Regions from separate parts of the Homo sapiens genome. Here region 2 is linked to region 1. The links come from fine-mapping of genetic effects on plasma protein levels. Region 1 holds a variant in brackets. A gene starts in the other region. All regions are shown on their forward strands.

The links. A credible set is the group of variants that fine-mapping cannot tell apart. PIP is the posterior inclusion probability: the model's chance that the variant is causal. Protein levels are from antibody-based Olink assays in UK Biobank. Linkage for the fine-mapping came from a reference panel and not from the study's own genotypes, which makes the PIPs less certain.
Region 2: TNFSF11 starts here. The variant in region 1 is the best candidate, but not a certain one, in a credible set for the plasma level of the TNFSF11 protein (UK Biobank, PIP 0.51).

Annotation. Positions count from the first base shown.
Region 1 is chr8:23,180,276-23,188,615 of GRCh38, forward strand. No RefSeq gene overlaps it. Among named protein-coding and RNA genes, the nearest start is that of TNFRSF10D, 20 kb to the left of the region's middle. The variant C/T (reference allele first, on the strand shown) is at 4,886.
Region 2 is chr13:42,570,723-42,579,013 of GRCh38, forward strand. TNFSF11 (TNF superfamily member 11) reads left to right here and starts at 3,430. Exons shown (of 5, transcript NM_003701.4): 1 at 3,430-3,800. The coding sequence starts at 3,582. RefSeq lists a silencer at 3,368-3,737 and an enhancer at 3,828-4,027.

The DNA of each region.
Region 1 (8,340 bases):
TTCACTGTGTTGGCCAGGCTGGTCTTCACCGTGTTGGCCAGGCTGGTCTCAAACTCCTGAGCTCAGACAATCCACCCGCCTCAGCCTCCCGAAGTGCTAGGATTACAGGCGACCCATATCTTATTGAATAAGTCTCTTAGTCATGAGAATAGTTTTGTCCAGTTAGGCAGTTGTATCTCATTTTAGGAGATGATGTTATAGGTGGTCCTTCATCTAGGTTAGGCCTCTATAAGGTGTGGTCAATCAGTATTTAATAAGAGGCATTTCTACGGAAACGAAAGAAAAGTAAAGGTTAATGGTTGGAGCAAATTATACAAGCCCAGTTTTTGAGTCCAGAGGACAGTCAGTTGAGATTTCTAGATGTTGGGCTTGAAGCATCTTTAGATGGTGGAATGATAAGAAGTCGTGGCAATTTTGATGAATTTCCTGTTGTGTTCTTTACATCAGGTGTTCTGGTGAACTTTCTGAGCACCCCATATACCCACGGGCATGAAAATTGTCCATAGGCAAGCTGTTACTGTTACTGAAACACCTGAGGATGGGTCTAGGTCCTGCTGCTTGAAACACAGAAGGTCAAGCACTGAGACACTGAGTATTGCCACGGAAATGTAGGGGTTTATATAGCAGGGAAGAAATTTAACCATAGGTAGGAATACAGGAATTAGAGAGTCATGATAAGAAATGTAACCATGTGTGGAAAAACAGGAATTAGAGAGGAGTAATGAAGAGAAGTGGGTCAACGGGAACCACCTGGCTGGTTAGGCAATCATAGTGGATGAAGAGTGTAGCATTTCACTGTTGAAATGCAATGATTTCAGGAAGTTTCAGTTCCTTGACACTGTCTGGGAGGCTTGATGGTGGGTTTCCTGAGAAAGGAAGTTAGATAAGACTAATGTAACTTTCTCAAGTTTTAACACTGGGAGGATCAATTTCTATGATTTTTCAAATAAACCATAAACATCGATCCTATGAGACAGTTGGGTCTGTTTCAGTCCCTCCTTTCTACTTATTAATTCCTCAATCCCGGGGAACCTGGCCCTGGATCTTTCTGGCTGCTTCAAGCTGAGGAGGCCACCATGGGTGACCTCGTGGCCACTCAGGAATCACAGGTTAATCTAATCCTACAGTTTTCTTCTGAAATACAATCTTTCTCTCTCCATCCCCCACTTCCACCAAAGATGAATCATAGCAACATCATCTCTTATTAATATTACACAAACGTTTTCTTCAAAAGAAACAACAAAGTTTTTACCCTTGTATGGTGTGTTATTAATGTTAAAACTCACTTTAATAAACCCATAGCAACTAATCTATTTAATTTTAATTAGTTTGACCATAATGTAAGATTTTCATAAACCTTCTATAATGTTTTACAATTTTCTATTAAAGAGCAAATCAGTGATCCAAGGAAACCCTGTTATTCTGATACAGGGGCCCAGACTCTGGCCTTGCATCAGTGTGCTTTTGATCTTAATGCTTAATTTGTAGAAAAACTCCAGACTTATTTTATCCCTCAGAATCAGTCCTTACAATCTCACATGCCCATCTCTTCCAAAATAGTCCCTGGGCCTAAAGGGATTGAATAGTTTTAATTTCTTGCCCTGTGTCTCATGAAGGCACTTCATTTTGATTGTCACCTTCTCCTGGGTCTGAAGACGAAGCTTTGACTGGTGCCAATGTTCAAGATTAAGCAAGAGTTGGCCGGACCCGGGGGCTCACGCCTGTAATCCCAGCACTTTGGGAGGACGAGGCGGGCGGATCACGAGGTCAGGAGATCGAGACCATCCTGACTAACACAGTGAAACCCCGTCTCTACTAAAAATACAAAAACAAAAAATTAGCCGGGCATGGTGGCAGGCGCCTGCAGTCCCAGCTACTCAGGAGGCTGAGGGAGGAGAATGGTGTGAACATGGGAGGCAGAGCTTGCAGTGAGCCGAGATGACGCCACTGTACTCCAGCCTGGGTGACAAATGGAGACTCTGTCTCAAAAAAAAAAAAAAAAAAAAGATTAAGCAAGAGTTGGTGCCTTTTTCAGACCCAGGAGTCAAAGTCCTTTAACTTGACAGCACAGGATTGGTTAACAGGATTTTACACTGCAGGAAGTCCTAGCATTCTCTCTAACATGTCACAGATTAACCATGTCCAGTAGTTACTGCCTGCGGCACTTCAAACCATTATATTAAAGTGGTTAGGTTACTTATAGCATATGTCTAATGCCAACAATCTAGTGACAGAACTGTGCCCGAAAGCATCAAAAATGTGATAGGTTTTATGCCAAACTTATCAAAGTAAGACAACTAACTTTCCTCTCCATTATTTAAAAAAAAGCTAAATACAACCAGGCACGGTGGCTCACGCCTGTAATCCCACTTTGGGATTATACTTTGGGAGGCCAAGGCAGGTGGATCACCTGAGGTCACAGCTTTGAGATCAGCCTGGCCAACATGGTGAAACCCTGTCTCTACTAAAAATACAAAAATTAGCTGGGTGTGGTGGTGTGTGCCTGTAATCCCAGGTATTTGGTAGGCTGAGGCAGGAGAACCTCTTGAACCCAGGAGGCAGAGGTTGCAGTGAGCTGAGACTCTCCCACTGCACTCAAGCCTGGGTGAGAGAGCAAGACTCCGTCTCAAAAAACAAACAAAAAAATAAGGTAAATGCGGATATCTGTTTTCGAAATTCAGAATAAGGATAATCTCCTTCTCTTAAATATTGTACAAGAAAACAGGGACAGAGTTAAGAACAAGCACAGAATAATTTCAACTATTTCAAAAAAGCGTCATCACACCTTTCCAAGATTGTTAATCTAGACAACTGCTTAGGTAAGTTTCACCACTAGAAACTTCAAACTGGTGCAACACTTGTATATATTTTATTTTCAAGTACACACATGAAGGCCTAAATGTAATAAAAGGGTTGGAATAAAAAATCAGTAGAAAGTTGGCTGGGCACAGTGGCTTATGCCTGTAATCCAGCATTTTGGGAGGCTGAGGCGGGTGGATCAACTGAGGTCAGGAGTTCAAGACCAACCTGGCCAACATGGCAAAACCCCATCTCTACTAAAAATATAAAAATTAGCTGGGCATGGTGGCAGGTGCCTGTAATCCCAGCTACTTGGGAGGCTGAGGCAGGAGAATCGCTTGAACCAGGGAGGCAGAGATTGCAGTGAGCCAAGATCACGCCATTGCACTCCAGCCTGGGCAACAAGAGCAAAACACCATCTCAAAAAAAAAAAAAAAGAAAAGTCTCACTTTTAAAATTACTGCTTAACCCAAGTGAATGTCACTTAGTTATGGTAAACACAACTAAAGCAATTTTAGAGAAATTCTAGTCAGTATAAATTTCTGAAGGGCAAGGCCAATCTTTCCTGAATATTAAAACTTTGTGCCCGTATCACAGTTTTTCTTCATTGCCTAAAGAAAAGGATCTGAAACCAACTTAAATTGATGGAATTGAATTTCCATGAAAAGAAATGCCATTTGAACATTTCTCCTCTCACTTGCTTTTTCAGATAACAAAATCAATAATGTTCTTTTTCTGCTGGACTTGTAAGCCTTTTTTTTTTAACAGGAAGCTTAAAGTTCTTCTATCTCTCTAGATCATCAGAGCTAAGCAAAACCAATCCAATTTTAAATGGCTGGTGTGCTCTCTCGATTTTGCAGGTTTGACCAAGGTAGCTTAGGAAGTTTAGGTAAATAGAGCAAATGATAAATGGTTGGAAATGCATAGGAAACAAAATGGCTGTTCATAGAACCAAATACAAGCCTTCCATTAGAAACTAAAACACGGCCGGGCACGGTGGCTTATGCCTGTAATCCCAGCACTTTGGGAGGCTGAGGCGAGTGGATCATGAGGTCAAGAGAACGAGACCACACTGGCCAACATGGTGAAACCCCGTCTCTACTAAAAATACAAAAATTAGCTGGGCATGGTGGCGCACACCTGTAGTCCCAGCTGTTCGGGAGGCTGAGGCAGGGGAATCACTTTAACCCAGGAGGTGGAGGTTGCATTGAGCCAAGATCACGCCACTGCACTCCAGCCTGGTGACAGAGCGAGACTCCATCTCAAAAAAAAAAAAAAAAAGAAAAGAAACTAAAACACGACAATGGACTTACAATTGTATGCATAAGCCAAACCCCAAGGAAAACAAACAGCAGCTAAATGCAAATTAAAAGCAAAAACAAATGAACAGGACACCAACCCCCAATTTTTTTTCCTACTCAGTTGTCTTGGAGGCTACCATGTTACCCAGAGCCTAAAAAAAAAAAAAAAAAAAAGAATATTTTATTCCTGGTTTACGAATTAATGTCTTTAAGTCCACCAATCCCACTGTATATTTTGTGCAATTAAGAAATTCACTTTAGGCATGTGACCAGTAAGTACTTTATTGCTAGTACTATCTCTGCAAAAGAGCAGTACAGTGTGAAACAAAGCAATGCAAGCGTGGGTGTGAAATGTGGCCCCTTGTTAAATAGGACTTCATGATGAACTATATTAAAGAAGAATTGGCAAACTGCCAGTGTATTTCTTTACAATACTTCTTACTTTACCTTCATCAAGACTAAGCGCTTTAACCACGAGCAATGTCAATTAGCCAAACTTTTCAATTTTCTATCAGATTTTAAAGAATATTTTACAATGTACTTGCATGGATCATTGATGACATACTAGGACTTTCTATTTTGTCCTAAATTTTTTTCTGTCTTGTTTTAATAATCATTCAATTTATATTAGAACATATTCATATATTCATCATACAAGACTTTTTCTCATACAAAGTTATTCTCTTTTCTTTCTAACCTTCATTACCAAAAATATATCTTCACCATAATTTTTTTCTTTTCCTTTTTTTTTTTTTTTTGTTAGAAATGAGCTTTTTGGCAGGTCA[C/T]CCAGGCTGATCTTGAACTCCTAAGGTCAAGCGATCCACTTGCTTCAGCCTCCCACAGTGAGCCACCACGCCTCCCATAAATCCATAACTTACTTCACATCTCTCTCCCCTACTTACTGGTTCCTTTCTACCTTGTTTAATAAATAACCTTTGCAAGTCCATAATTAGAATTAACCTTTAGATAACTTCTGAATTAGACTAATTTATTCTTTTTCTTAATAAGAACACATCTTTGGCAAATCTTATGTACAGAATTATACACTAACTACAATTGTTATCCTTAGTAACTTTAAATTTTAGTGAAAACTAGGAAGCAAAAAGTCCTGAACTGTCTATCAATAGAAAACACTAGCATTTTCTAGATGGGTTTTCCATAAGGAGGAACAGTCAGACTGCAGGTTTTTCTTTCCCTTTCTCGTAACCAGCCTAAGAAACAATATTTTACATTTTATCAAAATAATTCCCAGCCAGGTGCAGTGGCTCATGCCTGTAATCCCAGCACTTTGGGAGGCCAAGGTGGGTGGATTACTTGAGCCCAAGAGTTCAAGACCAGCCTGGGCAATATGGCAAAACCTTACAGCTACCAAAAATACCAAAAAGAAAAAATTAGGCCGGGCACCTTGGCTTACCCTGTAATCCCAGCACTTTGGGAGGCTGAGGTGGGTGGATCATAAGGTCAAGAGATCAAGACCATCCTGGCCAACATGGTGAAACCCCATCTCTACTAAAAATACAAAAATTAGCTGGGCTTGGTGGCGTGTGCCTGTAGTCCCAGCTACTCGGGAGGCTGAGGCAGGAGAATCGCTTCAACTAGGGAGGCGGAGGTTGCAGTGAGCCAAGATCGCGCCACTGCACTCCAGCCTGGTGACAGAGCAAGACTCTGTCTCAAAATAAATAAATAAATAAATAAAATAAAAAACAAAAATTAGCTGGCATGGTGGCACATGCTTGTAGTCCCAGCTACTTGGGAGGCTAATGTGGGAGAATCACCTGAGCCCTGGGAGGTGGAGGCTGCAGTGAGCCGTGATCACACCATTGCACTCCAACCTGGGCTACAGAGCAAGACCCTGTCTCAAAATAATAATAATAGTAATAATAATAATAACTCATTTGTTGCCTTTATTAGGTTTTTAATTGTTTAGAAAGACTGAGATCTAAAAGGTTTTTTACATTCATGTAACCTTCTGTATTGCTTTTTTTTTTTTTTTTGAGATGGGGTGTTGCCCTGTCGTCCAGGCTGGAGAGCAATGGCCCCATCTCAGGTCACTGCAACCTCCGCCTTGTGGGTTCAAGTGATTCTCCTGCCTCAGCCTCCCAAGTAGCTGGGATTACAGGCACCTGCCATCATGCCCGTTTAATTTTGTATTTTTAGTAGAGATGGGGTTTCACCATGTTGGCCAGGCTGGTCTCAAACTCCTGACCTCAGGTGATCCACCCGCCTTGGCCTCCCAAAGTCCAGGGATCACAGGCGTGAGCCACTGCGCCCAGCCTATTTTGTCCTTTTAACAGAGAAATTCAAATTTTAGTTTTATGTCAGTTCACTCAGTATTTAAGCTCATTTTTAAAAGTACTATAATAAATTCATTCGGTTTAATTAACTTGAGCACATATGATTCTCTCTTGTTTTCTCTAACTTTTTATTTCTGCTGTGATTTTTGTGTGCCCCCAAAGTTCATGTGTTGGAAACTTAATTCCAAATGCAACAGTGGGGGGAGGTGGGACCTTTAAGGGATGATTAGATCAAGAGGGTACTTCCCACATGAATGGATTAATACATTATTGTGGGAGTGGGTTCGTTATTGCAGGAGTAGATTGGTTATAAAAGTGAGTTTGTCCCCCTCTTGCACATTTTCCCTTCCTCCCATGTATGCCCTCTTGTCCTTCCACCTTTCACCAGGTGATGAGGCCACAAGAAGGCCCTCACCAAATATGGGCCCCTTGACCTTGGACTTCCAAACCTCCAGAGCAGTAAAAAATCAATCTGCATATTTACGTAAATCACTCAGTCTCAGATGTTCTGTTATAGTAGCACAAAATAGACTAAGACAATATCCATTCAGTTTTATGTTTTTTATTGATTCATTTTGAAACAACCTTTGAATAATTTTCAAACTAAAACAATATTATTTTTTATTTTAACAAAAACCCATCTTTTCTGTCTCATAGTTTTTTTGTTTATTCATTTTTGTTTTTTTAGAAAGAGTCTTGCTTTGTCGCCCAGGCTGGAGTGCAGTGGTGCTATCTTGGCTCACTGCAACCTCCACCTCCTGGGTTCAAGCGATTCTCCCACCTCAGCCTCCGGAGTAACTGGGGTTACAGGCACCTGCCACCATGACTGGCTAATTTTTGTATTTTTAGTAGAGACATGGTTTCAACATGTTGGCCAGGCTGGTCTCGAACTCCTGAGCTCAGGTGATCCACCGCCTCAGCTTCCCAAAGTGCTGGGATTACAAGCATGAGCCACCGTGCCTGGCCAGTATATTTCATAGGTTTCAAAGAAAAAATACACCTTATTTTTCTGTTATGCTTTGCGTATAAAGTTGCTTCCCCTAATATTTCTAGAAATTCCAATTACATTAATATGATTAATTAATAAGAATTGTTAACTTTTAGTGTCTTTAATTTCCAGTGAACACTAGAGAACTAGAAGGTATGCAGTCATGAACTGTTTTCTTCCAAGTTTGCAAGCACACGATTTCATACTTTCTAGAAACACGATTCCTAGTCCTATGACACAGGACAGGAAATGGCAGAGGAAAGGTTTAATAGGCCCAAATATCTTTTGTTCTTCTGTAATAGGTAGGCAAAGTAAGTTCTAAATTTATGTTCAGCAATAAATGTTTCAGTATCATATTAATATCTTATTTGGAAATGATCTAGATATTCAATACATATTGCTATGGTTTGAATGTTTTTCTGCTCTGAAAATCATATTAAAACTAAATCCCCAATGTAACAGTACTCAGACGTAGGGGCTTTAAGATGTGATTCCATCATGAGGGCCCTGCCTTCATGAACAGATTAATCCTTCACAGATTAATGGGTTATCGTGAGTGTGAAGTAATTGCAATTTGTGCGTGATATGGTTTGGATCTGTGTTCCCACCAAATCTCATGTTGAATTGTAATCCCAGATGTTGGAGGTAAGGCCTGGTGGGAGGTGATTGGGTCGTGGGAGGCTTCTCATGAATGATTAACCACAATTTTGTGGTGCTGTTCTCCTGATACTGAGTGAGTTGTCCTGAGATCTGGTTGTTTGTAAGTGTGTGGCACCTTCCCCTCTCTACCTCCTGCTCTGGCCATGTGAGACAGCTCACTCCCCCTTTGCCTTCTGCCATGATTGGAGGCTTCCTGAGGTCTCCTAGAAGCAGAAGCTGCCATGCTTCCTGTACAGCTTGCAGAACCGTGAGCTAATTAACTTCTTTTCTTTATAAATTACTCAGGCTTAGGTATTTC
Region 2 (8,291 bases), not on the chromosome of region 1:
ACTCTCAGCTTAGGATAGCTCCTGGCCACTTTCTCTCTGGGTGGTTTTTACTCTGGGAGTAGTTTAAATCATTATCTAGTAGTAGTTTAAAGCATTATCTTTGCCTAAGAGCTTTCGCTGACTCCCCACATTTGCATTGTACTAAGAGTTTTCTCTGACTCCCCACATAGGTCTAGACCCTAGTATTATAAGATTCTCATTGTACTTGCACTTTGCCTTCAAAGTACTAATCACGGTTTTGTTAGTGATTTGTGTGATGATTTGTTGAATCTTTTTTTTTTTCCCACTAGGGTGTAAGCCCCATGTTCCATCTTGATCACCATGTTTCTAGCCCAGTGCTGGCATATAGTGGGTTCTCACTAATATATCTGTAGAGTAAATGAAGAAATGCATGAGTGACATGACAGGAGAATTTAAGGATGCCATGGGAGCATAAAACAGAGGGAGCCACCTGGGTGAGGAGAGCTGAGAAAGACTTCTGGAGAGGCGACATTTGAGCTGAGAAAGGAAAGACAAGTGGGAGAGTCCTCCAGGTGTAGAAGTTGGAGAGATGAGCGCTCCAGTTAGGTAGTATTTGAAGCTGATGTAGAAAAGGAGTCTTGAGCCAGCTTGTGAAGGACTATTGGAGAGTTTTATTTTTATTTTTATCTTTTTTTTAATTTTTGAGACAGAATCTTGCTTTGTCTCCCAGGCTGGAGTGCAGTGGCATGATTGTAGCTTACTGCAGCTTCGACCTCCTGGGCTCAAACAATCCACCTATCTCAGCCTTCTGAGTAACTGGGACCAGAGATGTGCACCAAAATGCCTGGCTAATTTGTTCATTTTTTGTAAAGATAGGGTCTCCCTATGTTCCCCAGGCTATTCTCCATCTCCTGGGCTCCAGTGATCCTCACGCCTCGGCCACCCAAAGTGCTGGGATTATAGAAGTGAACCACTGCGCCTGGCCTATTGAAGGTTTTTAATCTTCAGAGTTTCGACTTTATCAACAACACTTAGAAGCCACCAAAGAATTGCAGGTATGGAAATGACATATACTTTTGCTTTTAGAAGAAAATCCTGATCAGTGTGCACAGAATTCTTCAGGGGGCAAGTGTGATTCATTCTGATAAGATATAGCATGGCTTAGACTGGGAGACTGGCAGAGGCTTTGAAGATTTCTTTGCTCAAATTTTATTCAGCAAGTATTTACCATGCACCTACTATAGCAGGCAACATTTTTAGGAAATGGTGAATGTTACAGAGGTGAATAATACAGCAAGAGTCGTTGAACATATGGAGTTTATCTATTAGTTGGGGAGTGAATGTTGACAAAGGAATAAGTAAATACATAGGCAAGAAAGATACATTACCTGTGAAACAGCAGCAGGTAGACTGACAGTGGAGTATCTAATACAGCCTATGGAAGCCAGAAGATAGTGGGATGACATTTTTGGAGTACTAGTAGAAATGTCATATGAAGAACTCTGTAGGAATGTAACATACGGTCCCATATATGAAGCTCCTGGGTCAAGTATACCTGAACATAATTCAGGGATTTGAGGGACTTTCTTGTAACCTGAGGATCAAGATGTCAAGGAATTAAAAACATGTATAAAACATTGTTGTATAAAAACCCATTAAAAAGAATGGAAGACACTATAGTAAAATCATTGTGGGTTTAGTTGTTATAACACATTTTAAAAATCTTTGATCCCAATCAATATTTATAAGAAAGAAGAAATATGGAATTATTTCCTGAGTCAAGGAGCAGGGAGAGAATGAGGAAGAAGAGGAGGAGGAGGAGGGGGAGGAGGAGACAATAAACCTACTTCCCAAAGTTAACAAACAAAAAGTGGGAAGAGGTCAAAGACTACAAGGAGTAGAATTAACGTCAATTGTTTCTATGTTTGAGTCTGAAAATTTTTTGTCCCTTCTCCACCAACCTATATATTGATACACATATAAATGCTAAAGGCATTTTTGAATTTGAACAGATCATTTTCTTTGTATGGCTGCCTTTAAAAAAAATTCAACCTGGTCACTCTTCCTCAACATTTACTGAGGTCTAAGTGTTCAATTTAGAACACATGCTTTAATAACTCAGAGACCTGTCATTTGTCACAAATCTTGCCTAGAGAAATACTCATTAGCGAATTAGGCAGAAAGAGGATGCAAAATAAAAAGGCACAGTAGTCCCCTGATATCCATGGAAGACTGGTTCCAGGACACCACCAAACCCCTCCCCGCAAATACCAAAATCCATGGATGTTCAAGTTTCTTAACATATCATGGCATAGTATTTGCATTTAACCTACACACATCCTCTTGTACACTTGAAATTATCTTTAGATTATTTATAATACTTAATAGAATGTAAATGCTATGTAACTAGTTGTGTATCATTTAGGAAATGATCACAAGAAAAAAAGTCTACAGATGTTAGTCCAGACACAGCCATCCTTTTTTTTTTTTTCAAATATTTTTGATCTGTGGTTCATTGCATCCACAGATGTGGAACCCATGGATACTGTGGGCTAACTGTATTAATAAAAAAGTGGAAACATCCTAAGTTTCATGGGTGTTTAAATTGGTCAGCAACTTCCTTCTGAAGAAGTATCAGAATTTGTGAGCAATGTTAATATTTTTGTTTTCTCACTAAGAGCCACAGTTCTGAATAGAGGTTTTTAAAAAGCCCTAGCAAGGTTTCTTTAGCAATGAAACTAACATTTAACTGTATCATCAGCTTCGTGTTACATCTCTTTCCTGACTGTTGGGTGAGCCCTCCTCGGATGCTTGCTTCTGGCTACACGCCCCTTTACCCTTTTCTCTGCACTGTTTTCATCTTTATAAAGTCAGAGTTGGTGTCTATAGGCTCTCTACTGCCACATTCAAGACCTGCCTCGCTCAATGTCACCTTCAAGATGCAGAAATAGGGATTTGGGAAGGGGATTGTGAAATTTTCGAAGTCTTCCAAAATACTTTGAGAAACTATATTTGGAAGCACTTTGGGGGGAGAGGTTGGACAGGAAGGGTCTTCAGAGATCATCAAATTTAACTTTCTAAATCCTAAGGAGGAAACCGAGACTCCAGGATGTGAAGTCCCTTCTCTACCAAACTAGAATGGATGCAGGAGGAATGTCTGAGGTGCAATCCTTATCCTTTAGCAAAGGTGTCCTCTGCGTCTTCTTTAACCCATCTCTTGGACCTCCAGAAAGACAGCTGAGGATGGCAAGGGGAGTCTGGAACCACTGGAGTAGCCCCCAGCCTCCTCCTTGGAGGGCCCCCATGAAGGAGGCCCTTCAGTGACAGAGATTGAGAGAGAGGGAGGGCGAAAGGAAGGAAGGGGAGCCAGAGGTGGGAGTGGAAGAGGCAGCCTCGCCTGGGGCTGATTGGCTCCCGAGGCCAGGGCTCTCCAAGCGGTTTATAAGAGTTGGGGCTGCCGGGCGCCCTGCCCGCTCGCCCGCGCGCCCCAGGACCCAAAGCCGGGCTCCAAGTCGGCGCCCCACGTCGAGGCTCCGCCGCAGCCTCCGGAGTTGGCCGCAGACAAGAAGGGGAGGGAGCGGGAGAGGGAGGAGAGCTCCGAAGCGAGAGGGCCGAGCGCCATGCGCCGCGCCAGCAGAGACTACACCAAGTACCTGCGTGGCTCGGAGGAGATGGGCGGCGGCCCCGGAGCCCCGCACGAGGGCCCCCTGCACGCCCCGCCGCCGCCTGCGCCGCACCAGCCCCCTGCCGCCTCCCGCTCCATGTTCGTGGCCCTCCTGGGGCTGGGGCTGGGCCAGGTTGTCTGCAGCGTCGCCCTGTTCTTCTATTTCAGAGCGCAGGTGAGTGGCCACCTTCCCAGGGGATCGCGGCTGAGAGCGCCCATCTCCTTCCCCCGCACTTGGAAACTGAGTCTGGCGGCAGGGCTGGGCCACCCAGAGCTTGCATATTCCGGAAGGGAAAGTGACTCCAGAAGGGAGAGAGGAAGTGTTGAGTTTGGGGACAACCTGGCGCAGGGCTGTCGGGCGCACCCTGCTCTCTCTCCGCCCACGCACCCCAGCTTCTCGGTGCTCTGGGGGCGGACTCCCCTGGCCGGACGATGGGTTTGAATCTCACCCCGTCCCTTCGCTGGGAAACAACACTGGCCTCTCACCTTTTCTGGTAGTGATTGCATACTTTTTCTCCCTGTCATTTCTCACTTGAAGTTAAGAATCAACTTCTGTTCACGTAGGAAAAAAGATGAGCGCCTTCACTTGGGCATCTACCTTTCCCTTCCCGCCCACCACCCGGCGGGTTTCGGTTCCTGCGCCTGGCTGCTCTGCAGGTGTGCTGGGGCCACGGTGCTGGAGGGCTGCGCGGAGCGGGAGGTCGCGGTGCTCGTGCCCAGGTCGCCCAATGGGTGGGCAGAATGACACGGCGCGACCAGAGAGGCGCGGGCTCGGGATGGGGGCTCTGCGGCTGTGGCGCTGTCCTGTGGGGGTGAAGGAAGAGGGACAGCCCCACGTGCCTGCTAGGGATGTGGGCGGAGGAAGGAAGCGAGGTGAGTGTGATGGCACAGTGTTACTACAGTCTAGCAAATAACCAACCTTCGGAAAGATGAAGAGGTTTTTTGCACGACGGCTAGGAACTGCAGAGAGATAGTAGGAAGGAAGGGGTAAATTTGTAATATTATGCTTTCTGGTGGTTTATGCTCTTGTGTTTTCTTGGAAATTGCAGTGCAGTTGGTTGGATTCATTCAAATATTCTTGTCTGGTGCTGTGAACTCTTTCTCAGAGGAAGTGGGGGGCTGACTGTGCATTTTTTTTTATGGGAAAAGAAAGTTGGGTTTGGACTACATTCGTTTTCAGATTCAAAGGTGATTACTAAACCAAACGGGATGCATCAAAACATGGCATTGCTTGGATTGTATGGTTTTTTGACATGTGCCAATGTCTCGAACTCCATTACTTTTAATCATAGGCTTTTTGTTAAGTATTCATTATCCGCTAGTTTGCATTTTCTAGAACTAGTGTGATTACCTACTTAAAGTAGAAATGCAATGAGCCACACTTCAGAAAATCTGCATTAAATATAATCTACTCATTGAGAGTTTTGTTGTTTCTAAAAAGACAACTTTTGAGTGGTTTGCTTGCAACACAGATAACAAATCTATATGAAAGTGACTAAACGTCTTTCTTTCATTGGAGTGTGTTGCAATAAGAATGGCTTACCCATTTTCTCATCCAGCATTTTGTTAATAACCCCCATTTAGTGCTTGTGCATGGAGTGCCAGCGTTGTGCGTGGCACCGTCACCTGCGATGGAATGAGTTAAGAATCATTTATTCAACAGACAGTGTCCACTTACTATGGGCATGGAGCCAGATAGCAGAGTGGCCTAATAAAACCATTAAAATTCTTAGTCAAACAAAAGAGCAACAATCAGAAAAGGGATCAAAGATGCAGTAGTTCTCCACTGTTTATCTTTTCTAACACCTTCGGGATATGGCATTTTCATTGCCATAATAGTGAAGAGAGTGTCCAATGTTGAACGAGCAGTAGGAAATGAAGGAGTTCTAGGAACCATGAACAGCTTGGCTTGGCAGGAGCTGTGGAAATCGGTGGCATGGCTGTGTAGGAAAGAGTGACCTGCTGGGCTCTTGTTAGAGTTGTTCAGCTTTTCCCTAGGAATTCTCGGTGGTCCCCGTGGGTGAGGAGTCAGGGCTTTCAGTGATCTCCCATCATCCTTTAGCAGTCTTGATGCTGTATGGATGATAGTGAAACATTCAGAACCCCTTTTCAAAGTAAACGTGTGAGTTAGTAAGTCTAGCCAGAAAATATACCTTTGAAGAAGTTAATGTCATCAGACTTCTGGGTACGGTTTTCTTAAATACCATGAAAATTCGGTTCCTTTGACTTGTGCAAAATAATTTAGCTATTATTCTGAACCCAATTTTGTATTGCATTTTAAAAAGGCTATCTCCTTCAGTAAAGAAAAAATATTAGGAACAATGTGTTCATATGAATATACCACTAGATCGGGATGCATTTTACTGGATATTGTGTCTACAATTGTTACCCAAAGGAGTCCTAATCATTTTGAGATACATTCTGAAATATTTACAGATAAAACTGCTTTGGTGTCTGGAATTTGTTTCAAAATAATTTCTGGTTGCTTACAGATGAAAAAAGATTTGCCATACATTGGTAATAGCTGAAGCGCTGATGCGTGCCTAGGGGTTCACTCTGTAATTCTTTCCCCTTTTATGTGTGTTAGAGATCTTCTTTCAAAGTCTTAGCTAAGAGAATAGTCTCCATTTGACTTGCCGCTGATTTAACATTTTCACTTATATCGGCTCTTTTGGATTGGAACTTGGTACCAAATAAATCAGTAGTTTTTTGATTCCCACTAAAGTTGTGAATCAACTATCTGAGGTTTCTAAATGCATTTGAATGAGAACAAACTATCTAGTAACATGTTTGTAGTTTACAGTTAAAAATGACGAATTAGTTTTATTGTTTTTGTTTAAAGGTGGAGAAAAGAAGGTATGCAAGTCCTCAAGGAAAAGCAGTTTGAGTTTTTAAATGCATTTAAAAGAATGCCCAGAATAGTGTAAAAATTACGGTGACGGTTAAAAAGTTTTGTTTTCTTAAATGTTTGAATAGATAAAATTGAATCAGCCTCCTAAATGTTTGCAGATTGCATGTGCCTAGATGTAAAAAATACATATCTACTAGATCCGGTGTAGCTTGGCTTTTCCCCCACCACCCTGCCAAAGAGAAAATAGTGTGTGGCTTCTGCTATATATTTACCACATAGTATTCATACTTTGGTTTACAAAGAAAAAAAATAAAAACCCTTTCAAAAAGTTGCTCTGTGTGTGTGTGTGCATGTGTATGTGTCTTTAACATCCATATAACCATATTCAAAGCTTAGGGTTTAGCTATAAAGATAAACTTTTCAGAAAACTGAAGATGTTTTGCCCTTTTAACTTCTTCCCTCGATCCCCCAATATGCACAAACCAACCTCCCTGGTTGTTTGTTACCCAGGACAGCAGTCACTACTGAAAATCTGATGTAGAGGTGTGCACTGCCTGTTTGAAAACACAGATAACGAAGTAGCACAAACGTCAAGCATCCTGCCTCATTTAACCCTACAAATGATTAAGTTTCAAGGAAGTTAAAAAAAATGAGACAGTGTATTTCGTAGGCACATTATCTGACAAATGCATTTTAACAGTCCATTTTAAGTCAGATATTCAAGATTTACTTAATGTTTTCAGACGTGTCTAAGTACAATGAATTCATTGGTTACTCAGTTTACTGTGACTTTTGGTTGAATTTCTGTGTTCCTCAATGAAGTGTAAGTTCCATGAAGACAGGGACTGCTTGCTTTGCACACCACCTTATTCATAGCATCTAGCCCAGTGCCTGGCATGTCTAATTTACTGCAAAGTCTTTTCTAATGATTTGCAACACTACAGATATGCCCATTTCTGATTGTAATATGCAAATTATCAGATTAGTGGCTAAAATAGTATCATTTTTCAATCATGCAATCCTCCAACCAGACTAATGTGTGCTAGTAGGTAGGTTGTTGGGTAGGCGATACATTCGTTCAGTCAGTTCGTGGGCATTTGCTGAGGGTCCAGCATCAGTCTGGCTCCCTCCCTGCTCTGCAGTTCCTTCAGCTTAGAGGCCCTCATTTACCTGTGTGTGTGGCTGGCCTTGCACCCTGAACCTCTCCTCCTCCGTTTTCTCCTAGTCTCCATTTTCAGGAAAGGAGAGCTGCAAGGGCATTGGAATGAGAAAGACATGTGGTTGTAGGTTAAAAATAAATTTCTAATGTGTGATCCTTGAGTAAACAAAATAAATGAGTATATTAAAAGCAATTATTCCATGCATTCTTGATTTCTTTTGGGAAAAAACAGTGGATGGGGTTTTATACATATTTTAGCTATAATGCTGCCTTCCAAAACAGTGGTTCTCAACTGCACATTGAAAGTATTTGGGAAGAGGTTCAATGATTGGACACTTCCCTTAGGGATGTTGATGAAATTGGCCAGTGAGGGGTGGGGTAGGAATGAGATGGGATCTGGGTGTGGGCATTTTTTTAAGAGAAAGGGGACAAAATCTTTGCATTGTACTTATTTGCATCAAATCAGTAACCATTATTAACTGTTTCAGTATCTTTGTACTAATTGATGTTACTTGTGAAACAATTTTAAAATTGGTGTCAGGGAACTTTGGAATCGTTTCAATAGCAGAAAATCTATATTTTAAAGCATGACTTCTCAAACTTTAATGTGTATAAGAATCACCTGGGATCTAGTTAAAATGCATATTCTCAGGCAG